Homo sapiens: one gene and its partner. The protein of the gene in region 2 interacts with the protein of the main gene of each other region in a biochemical or structural test. Each region holds a gene or a part of one and is shown on either strand. Other genes may lie near its edges.

Evidence for each region. Proteins that work in one complex are often made in the same cells at the same time.
Region 1: of the proteins of SETD7 (region 2) and E2F1, one has a biochemical effect on the other in vitro, tested with the Homo sapiens proteins (3 studies listed by BioGRID).

Annotation. Positions count from the first base shown.
Region 1 is NC_000020.11:33,676,386-33,679,885, forward strand, and holds part of E2F1 (transcription factor E2F1), read right to left. Parts: coding exon 3,370-3,500; intron 1,969-3,369; coding exon 1,816-1,968; intron 1,157-1,815; coding exon of another isoform or gene 1,156-1,156; coding exon 1,041-1,155; intron 946-1,040; coding exon 720-945; intron 595-719; coding exon 347-594; 3' UTR 1-346. UniProt on the Homo sapiens protein: Transcription activator that binds DNA cooperatively with DP proteins through the E2 recognition site, 5'-TTTC[CG]CGC-3' found in the promoter region of a number of genes whose products are involved in cell cycle regulation or in DNA replication.
Region 2 is NC_000004.12:139,553,420-139,557,654, forward strand, and holds the start of SETD7 (histone-lysine N-methyltransferase SETD7), read right to left. Parts: upstream 2,801-4,235; 5' UTR 2,719-2,800; coding exon 2,679-2,718; intron 1-2,678. UniProt on the Homo sapiens protein: Histone methyltransferase that specifically monomethylates 'Lys-4' of histone H3. H3 'Lys-4' methylation represents a specific tag for epigenetic transcriptional activation.

The DNA.
Region 1 (3,500 bases), on a different chromosome or scaffold from region 2:
CACATGTGGACACACTGGGGCGTGTCTGCAGTGCACACACAGAGGTGTATGTTCACCTTCATTCCCCGGTACATGCACACACACATGCTCACACACATTCACCCCCGGTACACACGTGTGGGTGTAGGCTGCATGCACATACACACCACACAGACTCCTTCCCTTCCTGGCTTGCTCAGCCTCCTAGCGGTAGCCAGACCCCAGAGCTAGAAGCTTCTGGAGACAGAGGAGAGGGGTATAAATTAAATGTTTCCAAACAGGCTGGGAGGACGGCCAGGGACAGGGGGCTCCAGGGCTGCAGAGACAAGGTGAGCATCTCTGGAAACCCTGGTCCCTCCAAGCCCTGTCAGAAATCCAGGGGGGTGAGGTCCCCAAAGTCACAGTCGAAGAGGTCTCTGATGCCCTCGCCCTCCTCGAGGCCGAAGTGGTAGTCGAGGGCCTCGTGGGGTGGGGAAAGGCTGATGAACTCCTCAGGGAGGAGGCCGGAGAAGTCCTCCCGCACATGCTCCAGGAGCGAGTCGGCCGCCACCAGCGGGGACAGGCGGTCCTCGTCCACGGGAGCCCGCAGGCTGCCCATCCGGGACAACAGCGGTTCTGGGGAGACGGGGAGCATCACAGGCCGGGGATGCCCCAGCAGGGAGGAAGGCAGGGGCTGTCGTGCCTGCCCACCCCCCAGAAGAGGGGCCCTGCCCCACCCCACCCACCTACCCATCACCCACCTTGCTCCAGGCTGAGTAGAGACTGGCTGGGATCTGTGGTGAGGGATGAGGGGGGAGATGATGGTGGTGGTGACACTATGGTGGCAGAGTCAGTGGCCCTGTTCTCCTCCTCAGAAGTGACCTCCTGGGATGGGGTCTTCCCAGGGCTGATCCCACCTACGGTCTCCTCAGGGCACAGGAAAACATCGATCGGGCCTTGTTTGCTCTTAAGGGAGATCTGAAAGTTCTGGGTGGAAGCAGCAGGCAGGGTAAACTGAGGCCCAGGTGACCACCAGCCCAGCCCAGCCCAGCCCAGTTGGGCCCGGAGTTCCCAGATCTCACCTCCGAAGAGTCCACGGCTTGGAGCTGGGTCTCAGGAGGGGCTTTGATCACCATAACCATCTGCTCTGCAGGGTCTGCAATGCTACGAAGGTCCTGACACGTCACGTAGGCCAGGGTTGGCAGAGTCAAGGACCACATGACCTTTGACTTCTAGGGGGTCACTCACTCCAACAGCTCACAAGGCAGGGCTCACACCTGCCTAGTCACTCCTGTCCTCCCAACCTCCTACCCACTCAAAACCTACCTCACGCCTGAGTTTCAAGTTCCACATCTGTATAATGAAATCACTCTACCCATTGAATCCCAAGGTAATAATGGCTACCGGGAACGATTCCATGTAAAATGTTCAACACAACTCCAGGCCTGGTGCTGGGAATTTATTTTTTAGAGGCAGGGTCTCGCTATGTCACCCAGGCTGGAGTGATGTGGCTCAACCAGAGCTCACTGCAGCCTCAAACTCCTGGGCTCAAGTGATCCTCCCACCTCAGCCTCTTGAAGCACTAGGATTACAGGCATGAACCACCGCACCTAGCCACTTTTCTTTTTTAATCTGTACAATTTCAGAATTGGATATTATTATTCCCCTTTTATAGATAAAACTGAGGCCAAGAGGTTAAGCAATTTATCCAGTGTCACAACAGTGAGAAAATGCTGAGCCAGGACTTGCAACCAAAATCAGAGCTCTCTCTTAAATCCAAGCCTCTCTAGTCCCACTTGGGTGGAGCCCCTGCCTGCTAAGCCTGCCTTCCACACCCTACGGCCAATCCAAGGATATCGCTGGCTGTCAGTGTCCTCGGAGAGCAGGCGCAGCTGCGTAGTACAGATATTCATCAGGTGGTCCAGCTGCTGCTCGCTCTCCTGCAGCTGTCGGAGGTCCTGGGTCAACCCCTCAAGCCGTCCGCCGACGCCCACTGTGGTGTGGCTGCCCCTGTGGGGAGGCACCAGGGAGGGTAGGGTTAACAGCGATTGGCCCCTCTGGCCAGGAGCCCTGGGCCTCAGGACAGAGTCTGCTGTTGCCTCTGTTCTGTGAGGCCTAGGCAAGCCCTTGCTTCTGTCTGGGTCTGGCTCCTCAGCTGGGCTCCAAATCAGAGTGTCATGGGCTTGAAGTCTGGCCCGAATATAAACACCTACATGTCCCTCAACCAGGGCGGGATAAACAAATGATGGGACTGACATGCCACGAAATATTACACATGCACACACACATGCATTTCCAAGACATGCTGTCAAATGAAAAAAAAAAAAAGGCTGGGCTTGGTGGCTTATACCTATAATCCCAGCACTTTGGGGGGCTGAGGCCAGAGGATTGCTTGAGCCTCAGGAGTTTGAGACCAGCCTGGGCAACACAGTGAGACTCTGCCTCTACACAAAATCAAAGACATTAGCCAGACATGGTGGCATGTACTTGTAGTCCTAGCTACAGGTACGGAGCTTGAGCCCAGGAGGTTGAGGCTGCAGTGAGCTGTATTTGTGCCTCCATACTCCAGCCTGGGCGACAGAGCAACACCCTGTCTCAAACCACCCCCCTCCACCCAAAAAACCACAAAAGATGCAGAATGGAACGATCTACCAAAAAATGAAACGGCAGGTGTATCAAAGAAAGGGTAGTAGCATGATGACTGGCGCGAAGGCGAGAGGGGGAAAATAAAACAAGAATAAAATATCTATGCCAGACAGATCTCACCGAGGGCATGAGAAGCCAGGATAGTGGTGACCTGGCGGTGTGAGGGGTTGGCAATGACTGGAAAGGGGCACAAGAGAACCTTCTAGGGTGTTGAAAATGCTCTTATCTTGATCTGAATGGTGGCAACCCAGATGAATAAATATATAAAGCTGCGCGGGGCGCAGTGGCTCATGCCTGTAATCCCAGCACTTTGGGAGGCTGAGGCAGGCAGATCACCTGAGATCAGGAGTTCGAGACCAGACTGGCCAACATGGTGAAACCCCATTTCTACTACAAATACAAAAAGTAGCTGGGCATGGTGGCAGGCGCCTGTATCCCCAGCTATTCAGGAGGCTGAGGCAGGAGAAGCACCTGAACCTGGGAGGTAGAGGTTACAGTGAGCTGAGATTACACCACTGCACTCCAGCCTGGGTGACAGAGTGAAACTCCATCTAAAAAAGAAAAAAGTAAAGCTGCAACTGAGGTGGATATGTAAGATTTGTGTGCTTTTTACCATCTATCATCTCAGGGAAGCTACCTCTCCTCTCTGAGCCCGTTTCCCCAGCTATAAGATGGGGATGCAGGCAGCCACAGTGGGTATTACTACCAGCTCCTCCAGGCTGGCATGGGCAGGTGTGCCTGCCCTCCTGTGTGGCCGGTACCTACAGCCACTGGATGTGGTTCTTGGACTTCTTGGCAATGAGCTGGATGCCCTCAAGGACGTTGGTGATGTCATAGATGCGCCGCTTCTGCACCTTCAGCACCTCGGCAGCCCAGTTCAGGTCGACGACACCGTC
Region 2 (4,235 bases):
ACTGACATAATATTTAACTGTTGCTTCCAAACTCAGTTATCAAGTGTTTCATAAATTTGACTAACTCATTAAAAATAAAAAATGTAGGAAGACAGTTTGGTCTGGTGGAGGGCTGTTTTGGAAGTCCAAGCCAGTCTCTCCACCTCACTGAGTGTTCTTGGATTAGTCCTTAACTTCTGTATGCCTCAGTTCCCGCCTCTGTAAAATTAGGATAATATTAGTACCCACCTCATAAGACTGAATAAGACTGAATGGATAATGTCTGTGAAACACTTAGCACAGAGCCTGCACTTAATAAGAACTAAACAATTATAGCAATGATAATAATAGCTATGACAATGAAACTACTGAGAACAGAGGCTCTGTTTATGGAAAGAGGTAGATTAGTTGGTACTTAAACACTAAGATATTCAGACTAGCTTCTCTTTGGGAAAGAACAGAAGCAGTTTATACCAGTCCCCTATGTAAGTGTTAGATGTTATGTAAAGACTATTGCAAACAGCACTAAAAAGGCCAAGAATGGCTGGACAAGAGTGCACGCACAGGTACGGTTTACTGCATGTGCACACACACACTCCTGGCACTGTGCAAGTTAGAGCCTGAGATGCTTCTAGGGGCTTTTAAAGATTCTGTGCTGCTCTAATTGTTTAGTTAGCTACAACTGAGTGACCATGTGTCCCAGATTGCCCCAGACATTCAAGGCTTAAGCTACCTGCCCCAGCATCATTATTAATAGTGTGCCCTCTCATTCTCAAGGGGGTTCTGATTTTGGACAATAATGTACATAATTACCCTATAAAACAAAACCATCCCTGTTTATATGAACTTCCCTGTTTTCGAATCCAGTGGATGTTCTCAAAAAACAATACTGCCATTTCTAAAGCTCTTGGTCACAGTCTGCAAAGGAGCCTGAGGACTATGGACAACTGGACATATGTTTGTAAACAGCTTCAAAGGGGAATGGATGTGGTTTAACATGGAGAACAGTACCAGCAATTAAGGGTTTGTATTTAATTTTTACAAGTAAAAGTAAACGTTGAAGAAAGAGAGCAAGCCCTAACAATCTGAGATCATTTTTCCTTTATCTTTCACAACATGGAGGCACAAGAAGTCAACAACTTTTAACTTCTCAGAAGGCTCCCTGTGGATCAACTCAATCAATGTATCTGGGCCTCACTCCAGTAAGCCCCAACATTGGCTTTATTTATTAGAGAGATAAATAGCTCTGTGAGTTCACAACATGGTGAAAATTTTCTTAACAAAAACCACAGTCTTTAATTGGCTTCGAAGTTAGATGAAGAAATAAGTTTTAATATTGGCATTACATTGGATACTTTTCAAGAGTTCAGAAATATTAGTCTGCTTAATCTCCCCTTAAGATCTCAGAAGCACTGCAAAGGGAGTTATGTTTATGAAAACATTAAAACTGATTTTTCCCTAGTGTAACAATAACCATGTATCCTTATGCATTTGTAGTGTCGCCACTTTTTTTCTTTATCCTTCGTCAGAACTTGTGTTTATACAAATCAGACAGAAACCAGATTCAACCAACAGCTAAAAATTATTTACTCACATGCTTAGTTTAAAACATTCTGGTATCATACCACACCACACTGAAAAACATCACGACGTACTGTATGGAGTGGAACCAAATAAATACGCTAAAGAGTATTTTCCAGTATTCGCTGTTACAAAATCATAACATCCTATGATACAAACAACGAGATTGTATAACGTCCCCACATCGTTTTTTCAGAACTAACAAAAAAAAAAAAAAAAAGGTGGAGAAACTCAGCAAAACAAAGTGGCGAGAAAAGTCGGGGGAGGGGCGGTAGAAGAGAAGGGGCGGAGAAACACGACACTGAGGCGGTGATATCACCCACAGCCAACGGCATGGAATTCAGAAAGTTAAGTGTCACCCAGCAATCTCGGTGCGGACTCGCGGCGCGCCTGCACAGCGTGGCGGCTGCATCCCAGCCAAGCAGGAAGGGGGAGGGGGAGGCCTGACTGAGTTCGCTCGGGGGCAGCTGAGGGGAGGGCTGCCCGCCTCCCGGACGGCGCACGTTCGAGTCCCGGGTCGGGAGACTTGTCCGTCGCCCGACAATGATTTCATCTTTTCGGAAGAGCTGCCGCCTGGGCCGCGGCTGCCACGTGCCTGGTCTGGCCCCGTGCGCTGCGCCGGGGGACCTACCCGGACGGGGCCGCGGCCGCCGCGGGGCGCAGAGGCAGCAGAAGGGAAGGGCTGGCGGCCGGGAGGGGATCGGGGTGGCCAAAACTGGGCTAGGGGATTGCTCCGCGGAGTCCGCCGGCCTCAAGGGGCTGCCCTGCGGAGTGCACCCACCCTCCGCGCCCAAAGGCGGAAAGGCCAGAGCGCGGGGCAGGTTTCGCAACTCCGAGGGTGGATGCAGGCTGTGGCCGGGCGGGATGGAGCGGCCGTGCGTTTCCAGCGCCCCCGGCCTGGCGGAGCCCCATTCTCGGCCTGCGCCCCGCCGCGCAGTGCGCGCTCCCGGCGGCGTGACCGTGGCTGTCGGGCCCCCGCCCGAGCCGGGCAACCGGCCACCCGTGTAGGGGACAGTGGCGGCCGCGGGGCCCGGCGCCGCGCTGTTCGCAGCCCGCCACTCCTTCCGCGCTCCAGGCCCTCTGCGCCTCCTCCCCCGGCCCCGGAGAAATGCTTGTACCTTCCACCGCCTCCTCCACCATCTCGTCGTCGCTATCCATGGCGGCTGGGGACACTGCCCAGCTCGGGGCTGCGCGGCTGCCTCCCGTCCCTCTGGGTGCTCCCGGCGGCTGAGCGAGCTCTGGGGCTCGCGAGTTTGGAGGAGGAGGAGGAAGAGGAGGAGCAGTCGGGGCTGGCTCGCACTGCCTCCCCCTACAGCCCTTTCAATTCCTTGGCCTTCAGCTGCTGCGGCAGCAGCCGTCGTCCCCCCTCCCTTCGCCCACTTGCCCCTCGCCTCGGAGGCTCCGGTGTGCCGCCTTGGCCGCTGCCGCTGCTGCAACTTTCTCCTGTAATACCCTCTCTTTGTTATCGAGCAGCTGATCCGCTGACATCACCCAGCGCCGGTGCGCTCCCTCCCTCGCTGATTGACAGTTCCCTGTCCCTTTCCAGAAGTAAGGCTCCTTAAAACGAAAGGCGCTCCGGGGCCGCGCGTATTCCGCGTCCCAGCCAACCCGCCTCCGGCCCGTCAGCGTTTCTCTTTTGCTTAGGTGCGGCTTGGCGCGCCCCGAGCGCTCAACGCGGTCCTGGGCGCTGCGGGCTTCTCGCGGACACTTGGACCGCCCGTAGGGGCTCCGAGCTCCCGACCTCCCGTTGTGCCGGGAGCAACTTGAAAGTCCGTCGTGCACTGTCCGTGTTCCCTCGAGACAACCTCCAAAGTGCCAGGGAAGCTAAGGAAGCGTTTCTGACGCTCTGGCGCCTGGACTTCCTCTCACCCTCGCCCCCACATCACCCCGTCGCCACCGGGAGCTGCACGAGTGCGACACGCAAGGGAGCGCAGGTGTCCTCGCGGTCCCGCATCACATCCGCAAGCCGATTTCCCCAGCTCGGGGGCTGTTATCTGGCCCGGATTCCGCAGGATGGCGGGTCCACCCCAGCGCCCCCACTCCCCGCCCTCCTTCGGGTCGCCAGGCCCTCGGGTGATTCAGAAATTCATCAAATCCAAATGGCAGCGGGCTCTCTGTCAGGCAGGAAACAAGCCGCACCGAAGGCTCGGCAGGTTCCTCCTTGCTGCTGTGGTAATGGAAAAGGAGCCGCCGAGTGGAGCTAACGAGGAAGGAAGGACCCTCCGTCTGGCGCGCCTCTTTCCCGCGCCTCCCGCCCTGTACGTGTGATGTCCCCAGCTGTCTCTCTGTTTCTCCAAGTGCCAACCACTTCACAGATTCAGGCGTCCTCAAGTGGAGAAAACCATTGGGCACCCGGCTTCCGGCCCGGCCACTTAGTGTCGTTATGGCGCTGCCTCTTACAGGTGGCGGTAAAGGGCGACTGTAAATAGCCGATTAAACAGATGTAAATGTACACAATGTACCGTGGAATTACCGGGTGCCGCTCTGGGCACCCGCCAAGAACAGCTACTGCATGGAGGGGAGGAGGGAGCAAAAAAAAAGTAATTCCATTTTGTTTTCTGATCAATGAATGAGACTTTGGGGATTTCAAAATACTTCCAGCGCCCAGGAGACTACTCCTTGCTTTTGGCTCTGTGCTTAAATGGTAGATATTTTTGTCAAGTATTGCCGGCTTG